Homo sapiens: one gene and its partner. The protein of the gene in region 2 interacts with the protein of the main gene of each other region in a biochemical or structural test. Each region holds a gene or a part of one and is shown on either strand. Other genes may lie near its edges.

Region 1 (15,498 bases), on a different chromosome or scaffold from region 2:
GAAAAGAAAGGAAAGGAAGGAAGGAAGAAAGAGAGAGAGAGAGAGAAAGAAAAAGAAAGAAAGAAAGAAAGAAAGAAAGAAAGAAAGAAGGAAAGGAAGAAAGAAAGGAAGAAAAGAAAGAAAAAGAAAAAGAAAGAAAGAAAAGAAAGAAAGGAAAGGAAAGGAAGAAAGAGAGAGAAAGAAAGAAAGAAAGAAAGAAAGAAAGAAAGAAAGAAAGAAAGAAAGAAAAAGAAAGAAAGAGAAGGAAGGAAGGAAGGAAAGAAAGAGAAAGAAAAGAAAGAAAGAAAGAAAGATTGATTCCTGATGCTCGAGAAGGCTGGCTCCTGCCGCTTCCTGATCAACCCCACACCCGGAGGTCATCCACACTCTTATTCTAGCACCTTAGATTAGTTTTTACGCTTCTTAAACTTCATGTGAGTAAAATCATATAGTATGTAGCTTTTGTGCTCATCTTCTTTGGTTTGGTTCTGACACCACGGCTGGGAAATTCATTCATTTTCTTGCCTGTTTTGGAAATTCATTTTTTCCCAGTGCTGTGTAATATCCCATTGACTAAATACACCTTTATCCATCCTATTGCTACATTTATTGCTCACAGAGCATGTTTTCTATCCTTTTCCTTCAGGGAAAGTGGGTCTTTATATTTAAAGTGTGACTTTTGTATCCACTCTGACAATTTCTGCCTTTTAACTGGTTTAGTCCATTTACATTTAATGTAACTACTGATATGACTCCTTTAATTCCACCGTTTTGCTGTCTCTTCTCCATTTGTCTCGTCTGTTTTTTTCCCCTGCTTTGGTCCTTCTTTGCTACCCTCTTTTAGTGCAAACAGATTTCTTTAGTCTCTCATTTTATTTCCCCATTTGCTTTTTATCTGTGCCTCCTTGTGCTGCCTTTTTAAACCTTGATTTGTCACAGCCTCCTTGAACTCATAGCGTCACGCACCCCCTCAGACAAGACTGAAGGACTGTGCGAGAGCACAGATCCATTTTCCACCAACCACCCCCACCCCATCCTTTCTAGATTGTTTTATGCATTTTACGTCTGCATATGTCATAAACCCCACAATACAATCTGATTCTTTTGCTTTAAACAGTCACTTGTGTTTTGAATACACTGAGAAAAAGAGATCGTCTCAGACATTGACTCTCCTTTACCCACTTCTCCTGTTCTTTATTCCCTTCCAAGAGAACTAAATTCCTATCTGGCATTGTTTCTCTTCACCTGCAGAACCTCCTTTAGCATTTTTGGTGGTACAGCCTCTGGCGACAAATAATCTTAGCTTCCTTTTACCTAAAATGTCTTTATTTCACTCTTATTGTAAAATAATATTTTTTGCTTGATGAGAAATTCTGAGTTAACAGATGTCTCTGTTTCGTTTTAGGGCACTTTAGTGTATGGGATGCTACCGAGGGGCACGGCTGCTCCACGTCCTTGCCATTTCTCAGCACTGTTAGCTTTTTAATTTAGCCATCCTGGTGCCTGGGCAGTGTTGTTTCATTGTGTGCTGTTCTTCCTCTTATAAATATGCTCCTTTTAAATGCAAATACAAGATCCACCATTAAACTTTTATCAATCCTATTTAAATTTCCAATTTTTCTTGTTTTAAACATTTTAGAGTTTAATTTATAAATCATGAACTTCGCCGATTTTTAGTAAGTCTTCCAAGTTGTGGAGCCATCATTATAATCTGTTTCAGAACCTTCCTCGCCCAGTAAGGTCCCTCACACTCATTTACAGCTAATCTCCATTCCAACTAGTCCCCGTCAGCCACTATAGATTTGGATATATAGATTTGGCTATTCTGGAGATTTCATACAAATGCAAGCATACAATATGAGGTCTTTTGTGTCTAGCTTCTATCATTTAGCATAATGTTTCTGAGGTTCAGAAATGTTATAGATATTGAAGCATATATCAATATTTCATACCTTCTCATTGTTGAATCACATTGTGTTATATAGACATGCCACATTTATCCATTCACCAACTGAGGACATTTGGGCTTCTCCCATTCGTTGACTATTATAATGCTATAAGCATTCATGTACAAATCTTTATATAGATATGTGTTTTCATTTCTCTTGGGTAGATACTTAGGAGTAGAATTACAGAGTCCGTAGGTGTCCTTTTTTTAGACTTTTTAAGAAACTACAAAACCATTTATCAAGGTGGCTATACCATTTTAAAGTCCTATCAGAATGACGGTACCCATTCCTCCACATGCTAGTCAACATTTACTATTGTCTGTTTTTTTTTAATAGTCATTCTAGTGGATGAGAATTTATATCTAGTTGTAATTTTACTCTGGTTCCCTGATGATCAATGAGGTAGAACACCTTTTCACATATTTGTTAGTCATTTAATTATCCTGTTTTTGAAATATTCTTTCAAGCTTTTGCCCATTTTTGAGTTTTCATATTATTTTATAGTTTTTATAATCTGCACAAAAGTTCTTTGTGGTTATAGGTATTGAACATGTCTTCTCTCAGTCTGTAATTTGCCTTGTCTCTCTTTTATTAGTGTCTTTTGATGAACAATGATTATTTCATGTCCAATGTACAACCCTCTCTGAATAGTATATTTATGTAAATAGTGTACTGTGTCCTGCTTAAGAAATATTTACCATGTCCCAAGATCATGAAAATAGTCTGTTTTCTACTAGTAGCTATATTGTTTTACTTTTTACATGTAGGCCTATGGACCACTTTGAATTAATCTTTGTGGGTAGTATGATATAGACTTCATACTCTATATACAGAGAGTGTGTGTGGTGTGTGTGTGTGTGTATTTCCTGTTTTTTTTTCTTACAGATAGCTGACCAGTCCAATATTGTCCATTGAAAGATCATCCTCTCTATAGTGAACTGCCACGGTATCTTTGTCCACACACGTGAAGATGTACTTCTGGGCTCTTCTGTTCCATTGACGTGTCTCTCTAACCTTCAGCCTACTGTCTTGATTACTGTAGCTTTGTAGTAAACTTTGTTATAGGTTGTATGAAACCTCCAATTTTTCTCTTCTTCAAGATTGTGATTCCACATCCTTTCAATTTTTACATCAAATTTAGAATCTGCTTGCCGATGTCTGCATTTAAAAAGTCTGCTGGTGGCTGGGCGTGGTGACTCACGTCTGTAATCCTAGCACTTTGGGAGGCCAAGGCAGGTGGATCACTTGAGATCAGGAGTTCGAGACCAACCTGGCCAACATGGCAAAACCCCATCTCTACTAAAAATACAAAAAAAAAAAAAAAAAAAAAAAATTAGCCGGGCATGGTGGCAGGCATCTGTAATCCCAGCTACTCGGGAGGCTGAGGCAGGAGAATTGCTTGAACCCAGGAGGCAGAAGTTGCAGTGAGTTGAGATCATGCCACTGCACTCCAGCCTGAGCAACAGAGCAAGACTCAGTTAAAAAAAAAAAAAAAAAAGAGTCTGCTGGGATTTTGGTAAGGGATAGCACTGAATCTGTAGATCAATCATGGAAAAACTGATATCTATACTAAGTCTTCTAATCGATGAAAACGATATCCCTTTCCATTGATTTAGATCTCCTTAAGTTTTTCTCAGCAATGTTTTATAGTTTTCAGGGGAGACATCTTACACAACTTTCCTTAGATTTATTCCTAGGTATTTGAATTTTGTGGTGCTCTACTGTAAATGATATTTTTTAAGATTTCATTTTCTAATTGTTCACTGCTGATATATTGAAACAACTTATTTGTGTGTATGTACCTTGTATATGTAGACTTTGATAAACTCACTTATTAATTCTAATAGTTTGTAGGGTCTTGCCATGTTCTGAATGTGTCTCACAAAAATTCATACATTGAAACTTATCATCAGTGTGATAGTATTAGGAGATGGGGTCTTTAAGAGGTGATGAAGTCATGAGGGCAAAGCCTTTATGAAGGGAGTTAGTGACCTTATAAGAGAAATATGAGCTGCCTGCCTCTCTTTTGTCATTCCACTCCTTCTGCCATGTGAGGACATGGCATTCAAGGCACTGTCTTAGAAGCAGAAACTGGACCCTTGCCAGATAGTGCCTAGATCTTGGACTTCCCAGCCTCCAGAATGGTAAGAAAAAAATTTCTATTATATATAAGTTACCCAGTCTGTGTTATTTTGTTATAGCAACAGTAATGAACTAAAACAGGTGTCTTGGGTTTGCTACATCACAACCATAGCACCTGCAAATAATGAGTTTCCCTTTTTTCTCCCTCTCTAAAGACTTTTTTTTTTTTTTTTTTTTTTTTTTTTTGAGAGGGAGTCTCACTCTGTCGCCCAGGCTGGAGTGCAGTGGCGCGATCTCAGCTCACTGCAAGCTCCACCTCCCAGGTTCACACCATTCTCCTGCCTCAGCCTCCTGAGTAGCTGGGACTACAGGCGCCCACCACTGCACCCCGCTAATTTTTTGTATTTTTAGTAGAGATGGGGTTTCACTGTGTTAGCCAGGATGGTCTCAATCTCCTAAACTCGTGATCTGCCTGCCTCGGCCTCCCAATGAAACTTTTATTTATTTTATTTTATTTTATATTTGACATCCTGGCCAATGCAATGTTGACTAGAAGTGGTAATAGTCAACATCTTGTTTTGACCTTGAACTTGGGTGGGAAATGTTCAATATTTCATCATTATGTATGTTACTTGTAAAAGATTTTTGATAGAACCATTTATCATATTAGAGAAATTCCATTCTTTTCCTGGTTTTCGGAGAGTTTATATCATGAAGTTGAATTTTACCAACAGATTTTTCTGCATCTATTAAGATGACTGACCACGTTTTTCTTTTTTATCATATTATTATGTTGAATTATATTCAGTGATTTTAGAATATGAAGCCAATCTTTATATTTTCAGAATAAACCCAGCTGGGTTATGACTTATTAGCCTTCCTATGTATTGCTGGATTTGATATGTTAATATCTTGCTCGTACTCTTGTATCTATGTTCATAAAAGGTAATCCAAAAGTTTTCTTATCCTGTAATGTTATTGCTTTTGGAATCAGAGTTACACTGGCTTCATAAGTTAGTTAAAATGTGTTCCTAATTCTCTATTTTCTGGAAGACTTTGGCTAGAATTAGTTTTACTTCTTTCTTAAACACTTGAAAGAATTTACTTGTGAAGCCATCTAGGCCTGGGCCTTTCTTCATAGGAAAATTATTCATTACAGATTTAATTTATTTAGGAGCTTTAGGACTACTTAGATTTTCTATTTGTTTCATGTCAGTTTTGGTACATTGTGCTTATTCAAGGAATATGTTCATTTTATCGAGGTTTCAAGTTTATTGGTATATGCTGTTTGCTGTGGTTTTATTGACTGTAGGAGCTGTGGTATTTCCCCCTTTACATTTTTGATATTAGTAATTTATTGTCTCTGTTTTGCTTTATCAATATTGCTAAATGTTTGTCAATTTATCAGTTTTAATTAACTCTTGAATTTGTTGATTTTCTTTATTGATTTTATTTCACTGCTTCTTGCTCTTTAAAATTTCCTTCCTTCTACTCTCTGGAGTTTAATTTGCTGTTCTTTTTCTTTCTTCTTGAGATAGAAGTTTAGATGCTTGATTTTCAGCATTTCTTCTTTTTGTCTAAAATATGTTTTGCTCTAAGGACTAATTACAACCCACAAATTTTGAAATGCGGTCTACAATGATAAAAGTATGTCATGTCCACAGTATTCTGCAGTTGTGGAATAGAGTGCTCTGTCAGGTAAGTTCACGTTGGTTAATTGTGTTGGTGAAATCATGTCTTTATTCATTCTTTGTCTGTGTGTTCTACTGTTTGCTGAGAGAAGCGTGTTCGTCCCCAACCGTAACTGTGGATTTGTCTGCTTCTCCTTTTAGTGTTGATAATTTTTTTCTTTTATACATTTTGAGGTTTTGTTATTGAATGCATTCCCACTGAATTGACCCTTTATTATTAAGAACTGTCCTTTTGTGTCTTTAGTATTACTTCTTGCCTTAGAGCCTTTGACATTAATACAGCCAGACCAGCTTTGCTTTTAGGAAGTGCTTGCACAGTGTATCTTTCCCCATCCTCTTATGCTCCATGTCACCATGTCCTCATAATTAAGATGTCTCTCTTGTAAATATCACTGTTACTCTTTGATCCAGTCTGAAAATCTCAGCTTACTTTACTTCTTAGCCTCCTGCCCCACACAGCTTCAAAGTGTGACAAACGCCCTGAGGGGCAGACTGGTCATGTGTTTGTGGCGGGCCCCCTCCCTTTGTCTCCTACGTCCAGTGAGGGCATGGGAGCTGTCATTCTGCCTTTCCAGCTGGGCTCGCCAGCCTCCCCCTTCACTCCAGGACTCAGGAGGATCTCCTGTGCAGCAAGCTGGCCTAGGTGGGGCTCCTCTGGTTTCCATTGTTTCATGCCCACTCTGAGATGGCAGAAAAGTCCTACTCATCTCTCTGAGGACATCCAATCCTCAGCCCGCACCCAGAATCCACAAATGCCCCAAGGGAAGAAAGCAGCTGGCAATTAGGCCGCCCAGGCAGGGCTCTTTCCCCTTCCCTTTGGAATTTTAGTTCATCCACACTCCACAGCTTCCACAGATCTCCAGTATCTTTCAAAACAGGACTATTTGCAATTTATATGTTTCCCTTGCTGTTGCAGCCAGTTGGCCGGCCTGCCCTGACCTGTGGCATCTTACCTGGAGATGGAAGTCTGCTCATGGTTGTTGAAGTAAATGAATCAATAAATGCCCGACACTTAGATACGCTATCACGAGGCATTTGCAACAACCCTCGCTAGTCTCCATTAAGCTCCTTTGACAAATGGGGAACTGTTCTTTGAGCGGATTACCTGCAGCCCCAAAGCCTCCTTACCACACCTAAGACGGGAGGGAGGTTGCTGGGGCCCCAGTGCTTTGAACAATGCCTGGAGCACAGCAGGTCCTCGGAGCTCCGCATTTCCCCCATGCGTGCAGGGAGGGAAGGCCGCGTGCCCGCGGGCGGGGGAGGGGGCGGCACGTACCAGCCTGCGGATGTCGCGCTCGCACTCGCGCTTGATGCGGTGCACCTCGTCTTGGTGCGCCTGGTAGGCGGCACGCAGGTCGGCTGCCTTGGTCTTGTCAGCCTGCATGCAGTTACTGAGCGCCTCCTCTGCCTGCTTGCGCGCTGCCTTGAGCTCCAGGATCTCCTGCTGCAGCCGCAGGCGCTCTCCATCGAAGGCCCTGCGCGCCTCCTCGCGCGCCTCGGTCAGCAGCGCCGTCTTGACCTTGTCGGCCGCGCCGTCGCGCAGCACGTTCAGCGTGGCCTGCAGCCGCTGCAGCTCGCCCTCCTTGATCTTGGCGGTGCGCGCCGCCTCCTGCTCGTGCTGCCGGATGAGCCCCTCGCGCAGCGCCTGCAGCTCCTTGGTCTTCTCCTCATGCAGCTTGGCCTTGAGCTCCGAAATGTAGGCCGTGTGCCGTCGCTGCTCCTGCTCGCGCTCCAGCTTCGCCTCCTGCAGCCGCTCGCGCAGTTTGCCCACCTGCAGCCAGAGCGGCGAGAGAGCCGGTCAGGGTCAGGGTCAGGGTCAGGGTCAGGGTCAGGGTCACAGCTGGGGGAGCTGGCCACAGCCTCCCCACGCCCAAGACACCCACCTGGGCCCACGTTCCCATGGATTCCCCCTTCGGCAGTGCCCTGCAGGCCTGACCCTCCTGCCAGCCCCACTTAGAATCTCTCCTGCTAGTTCCCTGAGACTTTCCCTGGGGGTGGAAACCCCCTGAGGATGCTGGAGAGGCATTCAAGCCTTTGACATCTCTTCCAGGTTGTAAATTGAGACGACTGCTCAATCACAAAACACACCCTGCAGAAATCATCACCAAGACCCAAAAGATTGTAAACCAGAAATATATTTCCAGGGCCCCATGCGCGGACTGTGGAGTTGGAAAAGACAGACCAGGCTTCTAAGTCCTGGGGGGCAGTGAGCAGGGGGCACCATTCTTGTTGAGTGGGGTCCCTAGCTGGGCTGGGGGCTCCAATGCATCACCCACATTGCCACATGAACCCCTCACGGTCTTGGGAAGGAAGTAGCGTGCTCCCTCTCTTTCTCCCTCTCTCCTCTCTCTCTCTCTCTCTTCCTCTCTCTCTCCTCTGTTTTATCATGAGGCAGCCAAAGATCAGAGACAGTCTGGTGAGCTGCCCAGGGTGAGGGATGAGGACCCTGTGCTACCAGGCAACCCACCCCGCCTTGAGCCTATTCATTTTATCAGCAAACAATTCAAAACATTACTTATAAAACGTCCCAAGGGAGTGTGTTCTTAAAACACTTCAAAATGCTTTCTTTAACCTTTTTGTTTCAAATATCACTCAACACACATTCCACAGGAACGCCTGACAAGCCCTTATTTCCTGAATTCTGCCCGTCTCTGAAGACCTGAAATGAATTGCCTCTGGTGGACAAGCTGCTTCCAGGGAAAATGGCAATGTTTTTCCCCAGACCACACTGTTGATAGCATAGTCACATGTTAAAATTAATTTTAGGTGAGAAGTTTTACAATGGCACCTGAGTATTGATAAATCCTTACTTAAAACAGCAGGTAAAAAAGCAAATAAAACCAACCCAGGCAAACACACAAGATCAACATCTCCTTTCACCAGATACTCACAATCATAGGAATGAAGCCAGGCGACCAGTCCATGTTCTGTCCACCTTACCCTGGGGGCAGCAATCAGCATCTTTTCCTAGTGGATTTAGCAGCAGGAAGCCAGAACTTTAAGTATTTAACAGAATTGTCCCAGTTATGGACAAAATGGTTTTGACTGTTCTCCCTCCTGCGAGGCAACAGTCAAGTCCCTGGTTAATGCCGACAGCCATCTGGGGCCAGCAGGGTCAGATCCAATGAGATCCTAATCTGCTTTGATGAGCTGCGTTTCCCCAGGCAAATTTCTCTGCCTCTATGGTGGCTGATGTTGTGGGTCGACTTGGCTGGGCCACAATGCCCAGTCGTTTGGTCAAACACCAGTCCAGATGTGGCTGTGAAGGTACATTTTATAAGAGATTAACATTTACATCAGTAGACTCTGGGTGAAGCACGGTGCCTTCCACAATGTAGGTGGGCCTCATCCAATCAGTCGAAGGCTTTAAGAGAAGACCGAGGTCCCCTGCGGAAGAAGGAACTCTGCCTCCCGGCTGCACTGGGACTCGAAGCTGCAAGATCAACCCTTGCCTGAATCTCCAGCCTGCTGGTCTGCCCTACACATTTCAGATTTGCCAGCCCCACAACCGCATAAGCCGATTCCTTAAAACTAACGAATAACCTCTCACTCTGTGGGGGGTGTGTGTGTGTGTGTCACAACCTATTGGTTCTGTTTCTTTGAAGAACCCTGACTACACAACCTTCCAGAGCTCCAGTTTCCTCTACTAGGAAACAGGGATGGCAACAGCTGCCCCTCAAAGGCCCGTTGAGAGGAGGAAGATGAGGTGACTGTGGGTGGGTGAATGGAAGTCTGTTGTTATCGTGGTTCTGACTTTCTGCATCAGGGGTGGGCAGCCTCGTGTGAGAGACACAGGTAGAAAGGGGGTGAGGAACATGGAAGGGTGGGCAGAGGCCTGTGCAGGGCAGCCCGGGGCGTCTAGGGGCTGCTTCCTGGGAGGGGCAGAGGTGCTGCTGAGGCTGGTGATCCAGGTGTGTAGGGCAGGGATGGTGACAGAGAGGCAGGGGCCTGGGGACAGGGCCCTGCTGGGTCCCTCCAGCTCTGCCCAAAGCTGCTGAGAGCCAAGCCCAGGTGACATGACCTATGCCACAGAAGCAGCAGAGTGAGGCTGGGGTGACCTCTGATGGGCACAGAGCACTCCCTCCCACCACCACTCCATCCAGCTGAGCAGGCCAAAAAAAGCCGCCCAGCACTTTACCTCCAGGTGCCTCCAAGCTACCCCAAGTGTAGAGGCACCTACACCAGCCGCTCCTCAGCACTTGGACTCTAAATGCAGCCACGGCACAAAGGCCAAGAGAGGGAGCATGCCCTGGGGGTGTGGGGGCTGGCGTGGAGAAATTATCTGAACCACCAGCACCACCCTCACTTGCCACTCCCACTCAGAGAGTGAGTCAGATTCACCCCTTTCCATCCTCATCCTCATCCAATCCAGCAGCACTGGCTCTCCATGTCCAGGCCTGGCCACTTCCCCACTTCCCCCTTGCCCAAGCCACCTGCAGCAGCCCTCCCCGCCACACCCTCCATGCTCAAAGCCCTCTAAATCTCATGGGTACCAGTTCACTACTCTGAAACCATCATACATGTATAGTGTTGAACAAAGAAAGTGGATGGCAGAGGGGGAAGCCAGGTTTCCCACTTGGAGTAAGAGGTTACAGACAAGCAAGAGGAGGCTGAAGGGAGCCATGCGGCAGTGGATGCGTCTTGGGACATCTGTAAGAACTCATGTTTGACTTTGTATGGATATAGATGTCATATATGGAAATATTTACAGGTATGCGTACATACGCAGGTCAGTATACACATATATATTCCTTGTTCTGGCAGCTGAGAGGGCCTAGAAACAATGACACCGCAGCAGTGATGGGCACGCCTGGTGCCTGGATCTTTGTTTCTAATGCCATTCTCCAATAAAAGGAACCAGGACCCCTTAGAGAAACTGCTGGGTCTAGCGCTGGGGTAGGAAATATACAAGATGTGCCTGGGGCACCTTTTTTTTTTTTTTTTTTTTTTTTTTGAGTCGGAGTCTCGCTCTGTCCCCCAGGCTGGAGTGCAGTGGCACGATCTTGGCTCACTGCAGGCTCTGCCTTCCAGGTTCACGCCATTCTCCTGCCTCAGCTTCCAGAGTAGCTGGGACTACAGGCACCCGCCACTGCGCCCGGCTAATTTTTTTATATTTTTAGTAGAGACAGAGTTTCACTGTGTTAGCCAGGATGGTCTCGATCTCCTGACCTCATTATCCGCCCGCCTTGGCCTCCCAAAGTGCTGAGATTACAGGCATGAGCCACTGCGGAGCCTGGGGCATCTTATAATGCCAGAAAGTAAGGAAATGCTCCACAAAACCCCCACAAAACTGCCCCTGTGAAGCCTTGGGTTCTGCTTGTCCCTGCACTATTTTCTAAAACCTCTGATGGAATGTGCCCAGGGCTGCTGTATTGCTGGTTTCCTGTGAGGCTCTGTACCCATGCGACTTGAGGACAGGGTCTGTCTCTGAGTTACTTCCAAACACTTCTCACTCAGCCCAGGCATGGAGCATGCATGCCAGGGGTTTGCAGATGAATAGACAGACACGTTTACCACCCTCCTTCATCCTACAGTGTTCAACAGGGATGCTTTGCTAAAATGCCAGCACTTTAAATGGGACATTGACAGTGATTGTGAGATCATATCAAAGTAACACTTCAATGCAATTGTAAAGTTTGCATTTATGTTTTTTGTACCAGTCAATAAGCACATTACTGAATTCTCAGAGAATTGAAATTCTCCCAGCAGCCAGATGGGTAAAGTCAACCTGAAGCGGCCACATGGATGGCTGGATTGAGAAAATAATCAGCCAGCGTGCATCCAAGTGGAAATTGCCACACGTCCCAGAGGCAGGGAGGCAGCCTGGTAACAGGGAGGCCCAGCCTGGGGTCCGCATGGGCCTGGCTTTCAATCCTGCAATACCACCTACTGTGCTGGCCTCGTGTGTGGGGCTAAACTGTGTCCCCCTGAAAATCATATGTTGAAGTCCTAACCCCCATGACCTCAGGATGTGATTCCATTTGGAGATAGATCCTAATGAGGTCATTAGGGTGGGCCCTAATCCGATTTGCCTGGTGTCTTTGTAAGAACAGAAAATACAGACATGGACAAACACAGAGGAGAAAGCCATGTGAAGACACAGGGAGAAGGCGGCCGTCTGCAAGCCAAGGAGAGAGGCTTCAGAAGGAGCCAATCCTGACACCTGGATCTGTGGCTGCCAGCCTCCAGGACTGTGAGACAGCAATCGTCTGTTGCGTAAGCCGCCCTATCTGTGGGACTTGGTTACTGCAGCCCTGGCAAGCTAACACACCTGGGCAAGTCCCCGCCCTCTCCAGCCCTTGGCTTGCTCACCTGTAACACGGGGGAAGCCACACCTGATCTCTCAGGTCACTGCCAGGGTCATGACACCCTCTAAAGCACCTGGTGCTATCTGCACAGTAGGCATGTAAAGGTCACCCTGATGGTCATGTGAGCGTATGACAGGCAGCACCCAGGCCCTGTGTGTGACTGTCTCATTCATTCCTCAAACAACCCAGGAGGCAGACACCTTAGAGGTCCCCATCTACAGATGGGAAAACTGAGGCAGGGGGTTACACAGCTTATAAGACCTCAGGCAGGGGTGGTGGTGGAGAGGGGATTTGAGCCCAGGCAGTGTGATATGAGTGAGCAGCTTTCCCTGTCACCACAGCTGCTGTAGCTATGTCCAGATACAAGCTGCCAGCCCTTACACCCCCAGCCAGTCAGCCCCAGCCCCAGCCCCGGAGGTGACCTGGCCTGTTGACCTGGCTAAAGGGTGAACAGGTCAGCATCACCAGCATCCATGTCTAAAAGAGGCTGGATGCACTCGGCCTGGAATCTTGAACACCTAGGGATGGAGACAGGTGCATCTGTCCCCAAGTTCCAGAAGCCCAGTCCCCTGGTCCAGAACTCAGCCTCTGCTCTGTGTGGCCATCCTGAGCTGGGGTTGCAGCCAGATCCCAGGCCCCAGCCCCGTCCCCACCTGGAAGCTGGATCTGGCCCAGCACTCCATTGGCGACCTGAGTCCCAGCTCAACAAGACAGGGACGCCTGCTGCAATTCCCCAAGCAGCCTCCACCCGTCACTCCAGGTACTACAGCAGGAGCCAGAGGGCACCTTCGGGGCTTCAGATAGACCTTCAACTGCTCGAGCCACCCAGGAGCAAGCCTGCATCTCCATGCTCTTTCTGTGCTCAGCCTGGCTGGCAGCTCCTCTCTGGGCTCACAGAACCCTGGGCTTGCTCTACCCTCAAGCCCACCCAAGTCAGAAGCAGGCCACCAAATAGGACTGCAGCTGTGCCTGGGCACCAGATGTTGATGGGGCTTTTTATTGCATCCATTAATCAGATCCTCATGACCATCTTAAACCGGACAGCTATAATTACACCATAATAGCTGGTGTCAGATGAGAAGACAGAGGTTTCGGAGACTTTTAGTCACCTGGCCAAGATCATGAGACCAGTTAGCGGACAAGCTGAGGTTTGAAACCGGGTCTGCCTAGAAAGCCTGTGCTCCTCCCCTCTGTGACAGCCCGTGCTTTAATTAGACTGCCAGCACCCAACCAGGCACTGTCCTGACCAGCTCCAAAGCTCAAATCTGCCTTAGGAGAGAGGAAAGTAGCTCATATCGCAGAACCAGGCTCTGTTCCAAGCTCTTTACCTAGCAGAGCCCTGAGTCCAGACCACAGCCCCATCACATCTAAGAAAGCACATATATGGCTTACAAGACCTCATGGCAGCATAAACCAAAAATAAACTTTGAAGCCTCCTGACCATCTGAACGGATCCCTCCTCTCCACCAAGGGTCTTCCAAAGTTAACCTGAAAAGCTAGTTCAGGCCATGATGGGAAGCGGGGAAGTGGGACATACCTCACTATGCCCTACTCCCTTTTGGAATTTAGGAAAAGCTGGTACCGCCATGACCCTGCTGAATTCAGCCTGAGGATGCCTTCATGCATGAGTTCCTATATGATGAACTGCAACCTAACTTAGCAGGCAAACTAACCAAAAGCCTGACTTAGGAGCATTTTTAAACAAATAGCCGAAGCTCAGCCAATCACAGCAGCTGAGCATCAGTAAATCACAGGTGACCCATGGATCAAGGGTCAAGCTGTAACTGATCAAGTAGCCTCAGCACCTCTTCTGTTTTCTGTCCCCATAATGAATGCTGTCTGACCACATGCAGGTTTCTCTGAACCTGTTCTGTTCTGGGGACTGCCCCATCCTCGAATCGTTCTTTGCTCAGTTAATCTCTGCTAAACTGAATTTGTCAAACATTTTTCTTCTGACAACCCCCATCTTGCAGGTAAGAGAAATCAAAGAATGAGGTGTTCAGTGGCTTTTTGAAGGTCACAGCAAGCACTGGTAGGGCCCAGACTCCTGCCCAGCAGTCTCTGTACTGCAAAGGGACAGACAGCAGGGCAGAGAGGTGAAGTGCCCCCCCTCGGCCCCCCTCCTGGAACAGGCTCTTCACACACATGCCTCAGAGGCAACACTGCCCAAAGGGACATTTGCAGCCCAGCCGCTGCTGAGCTGACGCCAACCCCCACCTTGCTTTTTTCCTGCTGGAACTCGATCTGAATGCTGGTCAGCTTGGCCCGCAGCTCCTCGTTGGCCATCTGCACCGCGTCCGTCTCCATCTCGGGCTTCTCGCCCTTGCTCCGGCCTTTCTTCGACATGCTTCCCCTTGGGTCAGAGTGCTGAGATCCTGCGGTCCACACCTGTTCACGCACGCCAGCCAGCAGGCGTGGCTACCAGCTCCACCGTGCTAACCAGTCGCGCAGGACTCAGCTCGCCCTCCGAGGAAACCACCATCACTTGGGATCCTGAAGGAAGGAGGGAAACTGAGTTAGCAGAGACAGAAGGGTGGGGAGCTGGTGTCCCTGCCTCGGGCACCCTGGGCCAGGCACCTGCCTCATCTGGAGCATGACCTGCCACTCCCAGACTGACCTAGAGCCTTCCCGATGGGGGCTGCAGCAGAATCGCTTGGAGGTTGTTAAGGCGTGGAGTCCTGGGCCCACCCCTAGAGAATCTGATTTGCATTTCTAACATGCTCCTAGGTGAGGCTCCCAGGTGACCACACCTGGAATAGCTTCAGTCCATCCTGCTCCCATCAGGATGAGACCAGCCCATCTCAGCAGCCTGCAGACCATGGTCTGCCAACATCAGTGAGCCTGTGTCTCCCAAGGTGCTTCTTCCAAAAAGCAGGGCCCTGGGCCTCATCCAGAGCTTGAAGCATGAGGAGCATGGTGGTCCAGGGAATCTGCATTTCCATCCACAATCCCAGCAATTCTGGAGCAGGGCGTGAGGACCACACTTAGAGAAATGGACTTTTCGATTTCAGAGGTTAGTGGTTTCCTTCCCTACTAGGTAGGTGATATCACCCAGTGTTACAGATGAGGAAACTGAGACACACAGAGGTTGACTGCTGGTGATGTCACTCAACTACTGAGAGAGGAAATAGTATGAACCTGATCAAGGTCCACAGCTGGAAGCGGGTGAGCCAGGACTGAGCCTAATCACCGCCCCAAGCTGCCTCGGAAAGCCCGCCTCTGCTCTCCCTTCCCTTCACCACGTCTCCTTCTCGTTTTCCATCTGACAAACTGTAATTGACTTAGTTCTCATCTATGTCCCCTACACGAGGATGGGTTCCCAGTAAGCAGGGCCTGGGCCTGCTCTGCGCCTGCTGTGTCCTCCATGCCTAGAACAGAGGGCAGCACGTAAGGATGCATTCCATCAGGATCCGCCAGGTGCGTGAATGAATGAGTGAGTGAGTGACAGCAGAAGAGTCATGAGGCACCCATCATGTGCCAGGGCCTGTG
Region 2 (16,017 bases):
AGCTCCCCACCTCTGACATTCCCTCCACCCCCAACCCATTCCAGGGTTAGTTTACTCCCTCAGAGGATCAGTGTCTCCTAATACCTTAAATCCACCACCAGTTTCTCCAAACCCCGACACTTCTGCGAGACTCCCGCAGCGGGGCAGAAGGGTCTGCCTTGCAGCATGCTTAACCATCTTGAGCCCCTAGACCCTCATCTTGGACCTCCAGCCCCTGCGACTCTCCCCAAGCTCCTGCACCCCCAGCCCATCTCCTGCCAGTCACACAAGGGAGGGGTCTGCCTCGCAATCCCAGAGACGACTCAGACAGATGGGGGCGCGTGCAGCTGGCTGGCCCCCTGCCCCGCAAGCCCCCACCTCCCACCCACCCCCATGTCCAGGGCTACCTTGCTGTCGTGGTGGATGAGCTTGAGCTCATAGTCCGGCAGGATGTCCCTGCGGCTATTCACGTCCTCCAGCGCCATCTCCACCGCGGGCTGGCAGGCCTGGCCCCCTGGCCAGCCCCCGCTCATGGGAAACAGTGCCCCGATGTACACTGCGCGCCGTTCTGAGGAGGGGTGCGGGGGGACCCGCGAGTGAGGCCGCGGGAGATGGGGGGAGTGGGAGGCCCACACCGGAGCCACCCCTGCCGCCATCACAACCAGAAGCGGCAGTGGCCACCCCACCCGGGCAAAAGGGGCCCCGGGCCCCATGGCGTGGGGGGCAGGGGTAGCTGTTGGGGAGCGTTAGGAGCTCAGGGGGGACACTTTTCCTGGGGAGGGCTGCTAAGAGGGTGCCGGGGAGGCGCCTCCATCCCTGATTTTGTGGGGAGGAGGGGGCGAGGGCCCCGGAGAAGCAGGGAAGGTTGGCTTCCTACGGCCCCCGCGGCTCTCGCCACCGTCGCCGCCACCGCGGACTCTCCTCGCGGACTGACTGACCGACGGAGGGGAGGAGGAGGAGCAGGAGGGAGATGTGGGGCTGGGAGGGGGCTCTGACGTCACGGGCGGCGCGCGGCAGCGGGGGGTGGGGGGGCGGGCGGGAGCTGGGGAGGCAGGAAGGGGGCGGGGAGGGAAGCGAGCGCCGAGGTGGGAGCGACAGTCGGAGGGGCGGGGAGGGGAGGGGGGATGCAACCTCGAGGAGGAAAGGAACGAAAGAGGAAGGGAGGGATCTCACTTAAGGGGACCCGAGGGGAGGAGAAATGGGGACGGGGCGTGCCAGGAGGGCGGGGTGGGCGGAGGGAGCCGCGGGAGGCTGAAGCACGGAGGAACCAGGGTAGGAAGGGAAGGATGCGAGTGGGACGGGAGAGAAACGGGGCTGGCGCCTGAGGTCTGAAGTGGGAGTATGAGTCGATACAGTGAAGCACTGAGGATGTGGGGGAGAGGAAACGGTTTTGGAGGGAACGAGTTGGGTACGGAAGGGAGGCTGGTTTGAGGGAGTGGTGGGGTCGTGGAAGGGAGCCTGGGGCTGGGTAGACAGAAGCCTAAGAAAGGGAGACAGGACATGGAATTGAGAAAAGACGAGGGAAGGGGTACACGGAAGGAAAAGATGTGGGGAAGAGCGCGAGAGGCCTGGCCAGGGTTGGGATGGGTGGGACAGGCTGAGAAAGTCCATTAGGTGAAATCCTAGGAGGCAGCAGGCTGGAAAAGGTTCCAGCGAAGGTCGCAAGGAACCCCACAGGGGAAAACGTGGTGGGAGCTCAGGGTCTCCCAGCACCCTGCCGCCCTCTGCTGGGCTCTGCCTGACACCGGCGAGGCTCAGTCTGGGAGGAGGTGGAGCCCAGGGAAGTGTAGCCAAGCAGGGACAAGGAGAGACCGCAGCCTCGTGGAAAACCGGGACTGGAGGCAGGAAACAGGTAGGGAGGGAAGGGGGTGGCCGCAAACTGGGGTGGGTTGGGGAAGGTGCGAAAGGACGACGCCCCGTAGCCTAAGGGCAGAATTTCAGGGGGGTGGAGGGTGCAGAGTGAAGGGGAGGGCATTGCAGTGCGCGCGGTAAGGGTTTCTCATCTCACCTGAGTGTGGCGTTCGATTCACTGGCAGCAGGAAAGACGGGGATCAGAGAAGAGTTACCACTGGCGCCCAGCTTCCCTGGCCTGATCCCCAGCCCCCTCCCACACCTGTCCATGCTGAAGACCGGGGAGAGCAGAAGCCTGCGTTTCTGAGGGGAGGGTGCCTGGGGATAAGAACAAGGTGGGTCTGGGGGTAAGGGGGTCAGGACTTATTTTCTTCTTCGATTTTTCATAGGACAACAGAATTTGAGACGGGAATGCCAATAGCTAAGTTTGGGGCAGATCTTGGTTCTGTGGTGCCTGAATATTACAAAATTGGGAGTCTTTAAGAAAAAAAATTACACATACAATTGGCTTTAAGCAATTGCTGTTAAAATCTTATTTCTGCAATTTTTACAAAAGCCTGTTACCATATGAACACATATCCATCGAGCCCTCTATATTATTAGAGCACAGGAAGAGGGCCCTGTAGGTGAGGAACCTTGAAGTCTAAGTTTCAGTAGTGTCATAAGTCCACCCCTGGATGGGACTCTCAATTTCCAGAATAAAATGGTAAACTAGAAGCAGAATAACTGAGTTATGTGAGGAAAGTAAAGCCCAAGGATCTTGAAAGAATCTACCAGGGTAGAGGAAGTATGAGGCATACAAATGGGATGACTGCATCCCAGGAGAGAAGATGGCAGAGAGTTCGGGTGCCTAGAAAAGGGAGAGTTTGTAAAATTACGTGGCAAAAAAAAAAAAAAAAAAGTAGACAGACACAACACTGATTCCCTTAGGGAATAATGGAGGTTGTCTAGGAAGTACAGAAAAGGACCTGTCTTCTTCCCACCCCATCCCTGAGTTGTTCTTCATCTTCTGATAATGCTGCCTCCAATTTTAAGTCTTTTACCCTAATATGTTTCCACCCCCAGAGCTCCCCTTCTCAATTTTTCTTAGTAGAATGTTTGATTTATTTCTGAGTCTTTACAATAAATCAATTATATAAGGAATGGTGAGGGATGAATTCTAGAAGAGGGTGATGCATGGAAATTTCTAAGTTTAGAGAAAGGGAAAATTGGAGTATTTAAACCTGAAGAAGGTGAGAGAGGTGAGATTCATAAAGGAAAAGAGAAAACGTGAGGTCTAAGAATCGGGAGCAGGAAGATTTTTTTAAAAGGTAAAGGAAGGAAGCCCCCAACCTACAGAGGATACCGGGGACTGCAAGAGGAAGTTTGAGGCAGGTGATGGAGGAAAAAGGGACTTTCATCTCCCCTTTCCAGTGTCCTCCCCCACATTTTTATAGCTCTCCATTCTTTCCCATTATCCATTCCCACCCCACTCCCATCCTCACACAAGCGTCCTCATCAGCTGCATGCAGGCAGCTGTTCCCCTCACCCTGGCAGTGGGGCTTGGGGGTGCTCCACTGGCCCTGACTACAGATGCTCCGGGAGCTGCCCACCAGATGGAAGTCGGGGTCACACCGGAAATCCACCCGGGCTCCGTCCAGAGCTGGGAGGTCCCCACCCGTCAGGAAAACCTTCCCATTTTCCAGGGTCAAATAAGACTTGGAGCAGATTCGGACTGTGGAGAGATAGGAAAATAAGAAGAGAGGCGAGTTGAAGAAGGCTCTTTCCCTTTAAAGAGCAGGGGACTCAGGTGCAGGTTTGGGTCCACAAGCATCCTGCTCTAAAGAAAATCACATGTGAAAAGGATTTGCCTACCTATCTTCCAATCCTCCCTTACCTGTGCAAGCATCCACACATTCCCAAAAGAAAAAAAAAATTACCATTTTAGGAACCCAAGATGGGGCTATAAGCACACAAAATGGGATCTCTTCAAAGTCAGCTACAGTGGGCGGTTCTCTGGCTTTGAAATATGTAGATGTATATAACTTTGGATGCACAATCAGATTTGCTTTTCTTATTATAGTTGGCTTCTATTAATATTAAACTGGCTTTTGTTTCTTGGGCATATGGTCTCTGGGTTGGTGACAGAGGTATTCAAAAATGTGATGAAATCATTTTAGAATTTTTTTGTCATCATCTGCCACTAATGATCCTCAAAGAGAATAACTGACAAGATGAATTATCAATGTTATAGGCCAATGATCAGTGGCCTAATGAAGGGAGGATGAAATGAACTGTGCAGGCTGCTAGCTCTACTACCTCCAACCGCACAGAGCAAAATTGCTCTTATGTAGTAGTCATTCAATAAATGTATTTGTGAATTTTGGTATACTGGATTTAAAGTGCTGACTTGCAAGCAGTAATGCTAAGTTTGCGGCAGGAAAAGGAATAGTCTTGAAGAGGGGAGGGGCTTCCGAGGCTACTCACCACAGCGGCTGGGTGTGTCCATATCTGTCCAGGAGCCGTTGGCCAGGCACTTGCGGACCTTGGGCCCCACCACCTCGCGCTCCCCCCGGCACACATACTCAATCTCATAGTCCACTGGCAGGAAGTTGATAGCCTTCACCTGGTCCCGAGTCAGGCCCCGGTACCTGATGCCCCCTTCCCAGGGCGGGTGTATGATCTGGCAACCTAAGGGGTGAGTCGGGGAGGCATACAGAGAGGAATGGTGGGAAAGAGGAAAAGGCAGGCTCCCCAGTGGGAGGAAGGGGAGAGTAGGGCGTGGTCTGTGGGCAGGCTGGGGACAGAGGAAGAGGGATGGGGCACTAGAGGGTGGGAGTGGGGACAGGTACAGATCCCCTGGCTAAAGGACAGAGAGTAAAGGGCCAGGGTTAAAGCTGATGAGAGAACCCACAAGTGGGGAGGGAAGGGTGCTGGGTGGAGGTAAGAAAGAAAAGTAATTAAGAAATCATGAAGGGTATGATATGTGGGTGGAGCTTTTCTTTAAAAAAAAAGGCTAAATGAGGATATTCGAGTTGAATTAGGATAGGAGGATAAAGGGAGGCTAATAAGATCATCTGGACAGCAAAGTGGGACCAAGAAAAGGGAGTAATTGAGGTAGTAATGTGGGGCTGGGAAAGGGGATTGAGGCGGAGAAAATGCACAGGAAGGTGGTATAGTGTAGCAATGTGGGCAGAGAAAAGAGGTGCTGGATAGTAACGTGGGGTGACAGAAGGAGGTCAGCAGTAGTAAAGTCGGGCCGAGCAGAAGGGGTTGCCAGACCGGGATGATATGTGGGACTGATGGGATAGTGATGAGGACCAGAAATGAGGAGATGCAGGGAAAGGGAAGTGGAGCGAAGGAGGGCCGGAGGTCGTCGAAGAAGGATGCACCTTCTGAGGTGGCGTTGGGGGTCTGCGCCCCGCCCGCGCCCGGGGGGCGGAGGAAGAGTGGCGCCAGTAGCAGCAGCAGCAACATCTAAGTGAGAGGCGGCCATGAGGACTGGACCGAGCCCCGCCGGCGCGGCCCGCACCCGGAGACTACTCGACCTCTTGCCGGTTGCCTCGCAGGCTCCGACCGGGCTCAGCCTGGGGACCAAGAGAGCGCCCCGCGGAGGAGGCGGGGGCGGAGCCCCGCGCGGGGTGGGGGGAGAGGAGGAGAGAAAGCCTGTCCCCACCCTCCTCCTGCCTCCCTCGGCCCCCAACCCTCCCGGGACTCCACCTCTCACCACCTCCTCTCCCCCGGCCCCCGCGGCTCGCAGAAGCCTGGCTTACCCACGCTCCCGGCATCGGCCGCCTCAGCGCTCCCCGATTCCATCCCCGCGGTTCCTCCTCTCCCCCAGCCCCGCTTCCCCCAGCTGGGCCCTGCGCCCACTGCCCCCTCCCCCACCACGCCGCGCGCCCCCTCTCCGAGCCCTGCTAACCCGGGGCCCTGGCTCTTACCTCGGCGCGCGGGCCCGGCTCCCCGGCTCTCCCCGGGCCTCAAGGCCCCAGGCCCGGCCGCTCCTCCCCGCTCCCCCCTCCCTTCTCCTCCACCTTTCTCCTCCTCCCGTCCCTCCTCCCCTCGAATCCAGGCTCCAGCCTGGCCAGGGTCTCTCCCCTCCTCTCTCGCTTCCCCCAAACCCCACCCCTGTCTCTTCTTCCCCGGGGCGGCGGCAGCCACGGGAGCGGGGAGCGGGGAGCCGGGAGGGAAGGAGGCGGCGCCGGGGACCAGGGAGAGCTCCCGGGCGGAGGGAAGAAGGAGGGTGCAAGGGAAGGCAGGGCGGGGGGAAGAGAGGGGAAGACCGGGGAGAGGGCGCCTCCCACAACCCGAGCCCCGGGAGCCGCCCCGGATCCCAGCCCCGCCCTGGACCGCCCACAGCGCGGTGGGGCGGGCGGTGGAGAGGCGCGGGGCTGAGAGGTGGGGGAGAGGGAGGTGCCCTGGTGCACACGCACTCGTCGGGGGGCGCCGGTCACTGCCGAGGGACCTGCGGGCCAAACAACTGGAAGCTGGGGTGGGGGAGAGGGAACCCGAGCCAAAGGCAGAGGAGCTGGCGCTGAGACAGGGAGTCTGGGATGAAGGTGGAGAAAGACGGCTGCACAAAGAGAAGGCAGCCCTAGATCCGGGTGAGAGGAGAGAGGCAGAGGCAGATGCCCAGGAGAACTGCGACCGGAGGGCGAGAAAGAAGCCTGGGTCAGAAGGAGGTGGGGGAGGGGGACTGAGGACCACCTAAGCGCAAGAAGGGTTGGGTGTAGAAGAGATTTCTGGGAGACTAGAGCAGCTCCATGGTCCAGCAGCATTGCTACTCGCCTGCTCTGCAGGGAACGCGCAGAACGGATTGGAGGCAAAAAACAAAACAGGGAGGGGGACATCAAGGAGAGAAATTGAAGTACGAAGGGAGTAAAAGGACAAGAGAAAAGAACCTCAGGGTGGTTTAGAAGCCAGTATTACCTGATGTACTCCAGCAGAGCCTAGCAAACAGTATTTCTTGACCAAGGGCAAACTGGAAGCTCTAAAGACAGCAGGTACAGACCTTTTTGACGGCTCCAGAAGCTCTTGGCTATACCTTGAAGTGGAGGGGTGTGTGTGTGTGTGTGTGTGTGTGTGTGTGTGTGTGTGTGTGTGTGTGTTGTGCTGTTGTTGTTCGTAGGCCTGAGTTTGGGCTGGGAGAGGAAACAGTGGGCTCCTTGTTGGGGGGGACAAAAAAAAAGCTGCTTTCTGGCTGGTCCTAGGGGGAAAAATGGTAGGAAGAAACCAAACACTGAGAGACTGACTAGAATTGAGATTCTCAACCTCCAACCCTTTTTTACAATAAATATTTTGTAATGACACTTTTACTGTCCTAAATTGAGATTCATAGATGAGGCTCACGCCTGAAATCCCAGAACTTTGGGAGGCCGAGGCGGACTGATCACTTGAGCTCAGGAGTTTGAGACCAGCCTGGCCTGGCCAGCATGGCGAAACCCCATCTCTACTAAAAATAGAAAAATTAGCGTGGTGTGATGGTGTGCGCCTGTAATCCCAGCTGAGACACCAGAATCGCTTGAACCCGGGAGGCAGAGGTTGCAGTGAGCCAAGATCGCACCACTGCACTCCAGCCTGGGTGACAGAGCAAGACTCCATCTCAAACAAAAAGAAAGGGAAGGAGGGAGAGAAAGTCATAGATGATATAACCTACCTACATACACAACTTTAAACAGAAAGCAAAATGCTTCCCTTTCTGTAACGTAAAGGGGAAATGAAAGAAAAGTAACTTGCAATAAAATAACATAAACAGTATTTTAATGTGTGAGTGCCAAGGCCCGACTACCCTAGAAGTCCTGATGGAGTAAGCAGATGCTTCCACCTATTCACAGAACCACGGGGATGAAACTGCTACCAACACAGGCTGATCCAGGTGCTGAGTTGGTGACTCAACTACCTCCAGCATGTTGCCATCAATGAAGTGATTTAACAAAATGTTGAACAACTCTTGGTAGCAAAGTTAATTTTCCCTAATTTTACACACAACTATAATTGCATTCCTAGAAAGTTCACTGTATATTTAAAAAAAAATTTTAAAACTGTATTAAGTTATAGGCTCAGATAATTAAACACAGGTTTTCACTACGTGAATGTCCTGGGGGACTTTTGAGAATCTGGGTGAGGAACAATTCTTCAACATGTAGGTAGTGCTTTGAAGAATATCTTACACCTCTGCCCCAACCATAAATGTCAATAGTGCCCCTTCCCTTATCACCTGAGGTTGGGAGTTCGAGACCAGCCTGACCAGCGTGGAGAAGCCCCAACTCTACTAAAAATACAAAATTAGCCAGGCATGGTGGTGCATGCCCGTAATCCTAGCTACTCAGGAGGCTGAGGCAGGAGAATCACTTGAACCCGGGAGGCGGAGGTTGCAGTGAGCCAAGATCATGCCATGCCATTGCACTTCAGCCTGGGTGACAAGAGTCAAACTCAGTCAAAAAAAAAAAACAAAAAAAAACAGCTAAAAGATGCATCAAAATGTTAACAAGGATTGCCTCTGGGCCATTAATTGTTGCATAACTTTTCTTTTTTACTTTTTTTTTTTTTAAACAAGAAGTTTATTTAAACAACAAGACGCTTGACTTGAAGGGAAAACTATCTAGGATTCTTTTTTGTTTTAGAGTAATTTATCCCTACTTAAAGACAGATTGCTCTGCATGTAACAGCTAAGTACAAAAAAGTTATAAAATTGTCCTTGGTTTTACAATGATAAATGAAAAACATTAAAATTCTCCAATTGAACAAGGTATGCAAGGATTTTTATGTTGTTGTTTTTTTGTTGTTGTTGTTAAAACAGTGAGAGCAAAATAACTTACTGGAATATAAAGATAAGAGCTGAATGAGCATGCCACTAATGGAGAAAGGGGGTATTTTCACAGAATCAGTATTTTTCCGCCCCGTCTCCACTTGATGTCAATCAAAACATACCATTGGCTGTTTAGTTTTAAAAAAAAAAAGTAATATGCTTGTGCACATATACCAGTTACTTTATGTACAGTAAAGGAATGGGGAAGGGGGAAATGAAAGAATAGAGAAAACTATACGGTAGTAGTCAGGATGTGGTGGAAGCAAATTGCAGTTTTCTAATTGAGAATGTAATCTTGGTCTTTAAAGAACAGAGTTCTGGAGTAAAGAAGCAGGTTCCCTTTTCAGTAGACACCTCCCGTCTGCTGTTGGAACACATCAATTGTATCTTCATCCTCCATTTCCAACTGTGCAGGTGTGTCTGTTTCATTGGTTGCCCGTCGAATCGGAATCTGATCTGCCTCATTGACAATCCCTGTCGTTCACAATAGGCTTTCATTAGTTTACTAAGTGGTGTATGCCTCTTAATCTTAAACTGCACCACAGAACCATCCTGCCCCGCCACCTTCAAATTAATATGATCGTTGTTCTCAGTCTTGACTCCTTCCTTGGGCTTTTCTTCGGCCATGGCGAGCGCCGGAGTCTCCTCAGCTGCCGCTTCACAAAAGAGGTACCAGGTCCGCTCCAAACGAGCACACAAGCAGCACCAGGAGCGGCAGAAGAAGGAGGCGGCAGCAGTGGACAAGGGGAGAGGGTGCGCGCACGTCGTGCTCTCCCTCCCTCCACCCTCACTTTTCTTTTTTTTTCTTTCTTTTTTTTGGTGGGGGGACGGAGTTTCACTCTTGTCACCCAGGCTGGAGTGCAATGGCGTGATCTCGACTGACGGCGACTTCCGCCTCCCGGATTCAAGCGATTCTCCTGTCTCAGCCTCCCGAGTAGCTGAGACTACAGGTGCACACCACCATGGCTGGCTAAATTTTGTATTTTTAGTAGAGACAGGGTTTCACAATATTGGTCAGGCTGGTCTCGAACTCCTGACCTCAGGTGATCCACCTGCCTCAGCCTCCCAAAGTGCTGGGATTACAGGCATAAGCCACTGTGCGGGGCCTGCACACTTTTCTTTCGTCATATTTGTTGTTCAACTTTTATTCAAATGTTTTACAAGTGTCTCCTCTATAAATCATTTTTAACTGATTTATAAAGGTTTAAAGAAAACCTTCCTAGCAAGTTGCATCAGTATAGCTAAAATCTGTTACTTGTTTGGGAGGCAGAGGCATTTGAGGGTACAGACAAGGGCTCCAATTATGTTCATTATACAAACCACTCACCTTTTTCCACCAGTAGCTACAACTTCCCCCTTTCACATCTTTTCATATTCCAATGTCACTGCCAGGATTCCTGGCCATATTTTTCAGGATATTTGTAGAGGTCCTTCCAGAACCACTACTTGAGTATCCTAATTTCATCCTCCCCACAATCAATCTACTTCCTTCTTTTCCTTTTACATCAAGCACAAAACTTCTTTCCTCTGGAAGGATCCCCAGGCTTGATCCCATCCTTCTCTCACTTCTGTACAATTTGTGCCTTTGGCAATGCCATCTCCTTTTGTAGTTTTTGACGGTTTTTCATAGAGATAGTGGAGTTCCTACTCAGATTACTGGAAAATGACAAATCTTATTCATTTTAGTTCCCATACTTTCTTTTTTTTTAATAATTTTTATTTTTTATTCTTATTTATTTATTTTTATTTTATTTATTTATTTATTTTTTGAGACAGTCTCACACTGTCGCCCGGGCTGGAGTGCAGTGGCGCGATCTCGCTCACTGCAACCTCTGCCTCCTGGGTTCAAGCAATTCTCTTGCCTCAGCCTCCTGAGTAGCTGGGAATTACCGGCGCCCCACCACCACGCCCAGCTAATTTTTTGTATTTTTAGTAGAGACGGGGTTTCACCATGTTGGCCAGGCTGGTCTCAAACTCCTGACCTCATGATCTGCCCGCCTCAGCCTCCCAAAGTGCTGGGATTACAGGCATGAGCCACGGGGCCTGGCCTCCCATACTTTCTTTCTACTTCCTTTTCTCTCTTCTGCCTCATCTTCCATCCATCCCTGAGAGCATATAGCCCAGAATTTAACACTCTGGGAGCCCTGAAAACATATTAACCAACGTAGTTCACTTGATTGATGATCAGGTAGATGCTAGGTACATTTTGGGAGTATCTCATTAAATTCTCACCTAACCACACAGAGTGGATATTCATGTTCTATACTGAGCCTAGTAAACTACCATTTAAAGAAAGTAAGAAGCAAATCAGAGGTCACACAGCTATAAAGCTGACAGAGCCAACATTTGAACTTAAGTTCGTTACCCTATTTTCAAATTCTTTCTACTGCATTGAGAGGCTTAGTTTTGAGGCACTTCTCTCACCCAACTCCCACTCCAAGTCTTTTTCTTTCTTTCTTTCTTTCTTTTTTTTATTGAGACGGAGTCTTGTTCTTTTGCCCAGGCTGGAGTGCAGTGGCACAATCTCGGCTCACTGCAACCTCCGCCTCCCGGGTTCACACCATTCTCCTGCCTCAGCCTCCCGAGTAGCTGGGACTACAGGCGCCCGCCACCATGCCCGGCTAATTTTTTTGTATTTTTAGTAGAGTCGGGGTTTCACTGTGTTAGCCAGGATGGTCTCGATCTCCTGACCTCGTAATCCGCCCACCTCGGCCTCCCACAGTGCTGGGATGACAGGTGTGAGCCACCACACCCGGCTCCAAGGCATTTTCTGTCAAGGGTCAAACTGCAGTTCTATTCTCTCATCTAAAGTAGTGGTGATCACTGGGTGAATGGAAGATGTTCATGTCCTCTTGGGTTAGGATGAAAGACCTGTCTTCTGGGAGAGTTTTCTGTCCTGTAACAGCTCTTGCTCTTTAGAAAAATGTATAGGGCAAAGGTTTATTATTCAAACGTGAAGTTATTTACACTCTGGGATTCACTCTGGCTTTTTAGTGAGGTTTTGAATCCTTTGCATCATATTTAATATCACTAAAATAGGATATTTTTGTGAAACTGTTTGATCCTTCCCCTCAGTTTCCATTTGTGTGTTCTCTTTCTTCCCGTCTTGATAGGCACAGGCACTCAGAATCACTGGGCCAGAAAGAAGTAAGAGAGTAGGCCGGGCACGGTGGCTCATGCCTGTAATCCCAGCACTTTGGGAAGCCAAGGCGGGCAGATCACGAGGTTATGAGATCAAGACCATCCTGGCTAACACGGTGAAACACCGTCTCTACTAAAAATACAAAAAAAATAATTAGCTGGGCGTGATGGTGGGCGCCTGTAATCCCAGCTACTTGGGAGGCTGAGGCAGGAGAATGGCGTGACCTGGGAGGCGGAGCTTGCAGTGATCAGAGATCGAGCCACTGCACTCCAGCCTGGGCGACAAAGTGAAACTCCGTCTCAGGAAAAAAAAAAAAAAAAGAGAGAGAGTAAGGGAACATCTTTCGTTAATAAACCCTCTCTATTGCTCCCCACACACAATCCTAGTTTGGTTGCTGTCTTCGTCTGTTTGGGCTGCCATAACAAAATCTCTTGCACCGGGTAACTTATGAACAACAGAAATGTATTTCTGACAGTTCTGGAGGCCGGGAAATCCAAGATTAAGGCACTGGCAGATTCAGTGTCTGGTGAGGGCTGGCTTCCTCATAGACTGCCATCTGCCATCTGCGATCTAGCTGTGTCTTCACATGGTGGAAGGGCAAACAAGCTCCCTGGGGCCTCTTTTAGAAGGGCACTAATCTCATTTGCAAAAGTCCCCACCACTTAATACCACATTGCATTGGGGATTAGGTTTCAGAACATGAATTTTGGGGGAACACAAACATTCAGACCATAGCAGTTGTACATTCTTGGCAGTTCTGGCCTTGGTTTATTGTGCCAATAAAAGTAAGCTCATGAAGCTATTTCTATCATGTCTTTACAGGCATGTACAGGTGAGCCCAGTTTGGGAGTCACAAAACTTCAGTGAAATTAAAAAGCCACACTATGAGTACCTGCACTAGCACTTACCACTCTCACACACAAGAATCCCTGAGGCAGTGGGGATCCTACCCCTGTCTCAGGAGTGCACAGAGCCAATAACCAAATTACAACATTGACATTGTGAAGTTGCCTCTAGAAATAATTTCTCAATAAGTACACCTTTATATAATAAGTGAATGAACACAATGTAATTAAATGCTAGATTAACCTAAGAAACAAAAAGGAAAATAGCTTCTTTGTCCGTTCATCTACAGGATAATGAGGTCATGTTAAAAGACTTAGAAAAGGTTCAGTTCTCCTGCCGGGCGCCGTGGCTCATGCCTTTAATCCCAGCACTTTGGGAGGCCTAGGCGGGCGGATCACCTGAGATCAGGAGTTTGAGACCAGCCTAACCAACATGGAGAAACCACCCATCTACTAAAAATACAAAATTAGTCGGCCATGGTGGTGCATGCCTGTAATCCCACCTACTCGGGAGGCTGAGGCAAGAGAATCGCTTGAACCCAGGAGCTGGAGGTTGCAGTGAGCTGAGATTGTGCCATTGCACTCCAGCCTGGGCAACAGGCAAAACTGTCTCCAAAAAAAAAAAAAAAAAGGTTCAGTTCTCATAAACACAAATTTAATGAGCATTTTGAAGATCTCAAAATAAGTATTATATTTAATTAAACGTGTAATTAAGTATATACTGGTATGAATATCTACAAATAATTATTCATACTAATCTGAAAAACGTATGCATCATAATGTGTGTATATAATTGGTTGCTAGGGGATTTGTTTGTTCATTTTGCTGCAATAGATTTCTGTCTCTCGTCATATTCTGTTCAAGTACCTAAAATGATTGCTCACTTATTCGAAGCACACTAATGAAATAATACTCAGAGTAAAAGGATATATCACCCAGATTTTTCTATTAGAAGCTACACAATACTCAAAAATCTATCATTTAATATGTGTATGCAGGTCTAAAGCCCATAATAAGCAAAAATATATTTTCACGTTAAATGTATGGCTATTTACACTAGATGAGGTAAAGAAAGACTATAAATAGCTTCACATCTCGTTTTGTCACAGAATGAATGCAAGTCAGGCCAGGCTTTGCCGCCAAATGAGTTACAAAATTTTGGTTTTCAGAGTATTGTGAATTTTGGAATTGCAGAAAAGGATATGTGAAACTGTTTATAAACATGAGAAGATGTTTACAGATAGATGTTTTAGAAGTCAAATGAACAAATCTGAAGCAACAGACTAGAAATTCTATTCATGGAAATATGATAAAAATGCCAGTAAGAGGGCTGGGCGTGGTGGCTCACACCTATAATCCTAGCACTTTGGGAGGCCGAGGCGGGTGGGTCGCTTGAACTGGAGTCCGAGACCAGCCTGGGCAACATGGCGAAACCCCATCTCTACCAAAAATACAAAACCCCGTCTCTACCAAAAATACAAAAAATCAGTTGGGCATGGTGGCAGGTGCCTGTAATCCCAGCTACGGGGGAGGCTGAGGAAGGAGAATTGCTTGAACCTGGAAGGCAGAGGTTGCAGTGAGCCGAGATCACACCACTGCGTTCCAGCCTGGGCGACAGAGCAAGACTCCATCTCAAAATAAAATAAAATAAAATAAAATAAATTTTAAAATGCCAGTAAGGATCTCCATAAAGGCTATGTATGAAAACCTGACCATGTCACATCCATGACCCTATTACAGCAGGTCAGATTAATCTTACCCTAGTCCAGAGAACCACGGGAACCACTGAGTCCTAGTGGAGGGAAAGCCTGGAACAGATGTGAAGCAAGCTTGGCTTTTAGCAATTGAGAGTAAACAAACACCTGCTGAGTTTACTCTTCCTTGCCTGTCTTTCTAAGCCATCACTCTGAAGACCTAAAAAGCAGACATGACTCATACACACCTTCAGATGCTTTCAGTATTTGTTACACCTAGATCTGTGCAGAAACTGAATACCTTATTGGTGCATAATTTACAAAGAATTCTCACATTAGCTCTTCTAATTCTTTCTGTTGTTTCTATATGATAATATCTCCATTTGTCAGATAGGAAAACTGAAGCTCAGAAAGTTTGAATGAACTTCATAAGATCACACAGCCAATAAATACCAGAGCTTGGCCTCAAAGTCAAGTCTCAGGTCCTTCTGCCCTTCACTAACAGTGCTCCAGCCATGGTCGTCTGACTGCTGTTCTTTAAACTTCCTTAACTTTCAACTCAGAAACCAAACACACCCAGCTCCCTCTGCCTGGGCGTGGTGCTCTGTTCAGCCTCCTCACCCCACACCCATGTTGCTAACAGCTTAAATGGCACCTCCTCAGTAAAGCCTCCCCTGAATTCCCCAGACTTAGAACACTGTTTCCCCAATCCCACTAGCCACTCTCATATATGGCATACTGTAGTCATTGTTTTGTTTGTTTGTTTTTTAGAAAGAAAGAGAGAGAGAAAGAAAAGAAGAAACGAAAGAAAAGAAAAAAAGAAAAGAAAAGAAAATCAAAATCCATGTGGGTGTGGTGGCTCATGCCTGTAATCCCAGCACTTTGGGAGGCCGAGGCAGGCAGATAGCTGAGGTCAGGAGTTCCAGACCAGCCTGACCAATATGGTGAAACCCCGTCTCTACTAAAAATACAAAAATTAGCTGGGGGTGGTGGTGCATGCTAAAGGGAAGGGAAGGGGAAGGGGAAGGGAGAGAGGAAGGAAGGGAGGGAGGAAGGAAGGAAGGAACTTATCTCCGTCTGGGTAACATGAGGAGACCCTGTCTCTACCAAAAATTAAAAATATTAGCCGAGTGTGGTGGCATGAGCCTGTAGTCCCAGCTACTTGGGAGGCTGAGGCAGGAGGATCGATTTAGCCTAGGAAGTCAAGGTCAGTAAGCTGCGATCATGCCAATGCACTCCAGCCTGGGTGACAGAGAGAGACTCTGTCTCAAAATAAAAATAAAACCACAAAACTTATCTCAGTGGTAATTAAGGTAACTGTGGAATCGTGTATTTACATTTGCCTTCCTGACCAGACCATAAACTCCAGGAGGGCAGGGATTTTGACTATGTGGCTCATTTTATCCCACTAAAAGAGCTACATATTTTCTGACTCAGAGATGAGTTTCATTCCATTGTACAGAATGATCACACCAGTTTCCAAGTCTATTAATCTAGCGGTCTCTGTTGTTTGTTGAAGACCTACTAGGTATTGGTAAAATGGGTTGCTTTGTTCCATGGGCCATAATAGTGACACATTCTAAACACATTTAAGTCATTCCACCCTATAAGTTACAGGATAATAATAATAATAGCATTTATTTTACTATAACCAGTTTTGGGCTGTGTGTTTTACTTGGATTGTCTCACTTGCTCCTTATAGCATTCTCTGATATAGAT

The links.
Region 1: the proteins of GABBR1 (region 2) and JAKMIP1 form a complex in vitro, tested with the Homo sapiens proteins (one study listed by BioGRID).

Annotation. Positions count from the first base shown.
Region 1 is NC_000004.12:6,098,496-6,113,993, forward strand, and holds part of JAKMIP1 (janus kinase and microtubule-interacting protein 1), read right to left. Parts: intron 14,503-15,498; 5' UTR 14,356-14,502; coding exon 14,227-14,355; intron 7,473-14,226; coding exon 6,978-7,472; intron 1-6,977. UniProt on the Homo sapiens protein: Associates with microtubules and may play a role in the microtubule-dependent transport of the GABA-B receptor. May play a role in JAK1 signaling and regulate microtubule cytoskeleton rearrangements.
Region 2 is NC_000006.12:29,627,100-29,643,116, forward strand, and holds the start of GABBR1 (gamma-aminobutyric acid type B receptor subunit 1 isoform a precursor), read right to left. Parts: upstream 6,085-16,017; 5' UTR 5,751-6,084; intron 5,684-5,750; exon of another isoform or gene 5,598-5,683; coding exon of another isoform or gene 5,583-5,597; intron 5,287-5,582; coding exon 5,202-5,286; intron 4,503-5,201; exon of another isoform or gene 4,501-4,502; coding exon 4,297-4,500; intron 4,291-4,296; exon of another isoform or gene 3,545-4,290; coding exon 3,359-3,544; intron 2,009-3,358; coding exon 1,988-2,008; intron 915-1,987; exon of another isoform or gene 693-914; coding exon of another isoform or gene 548-692; coding exon 387-547; intron 1-386.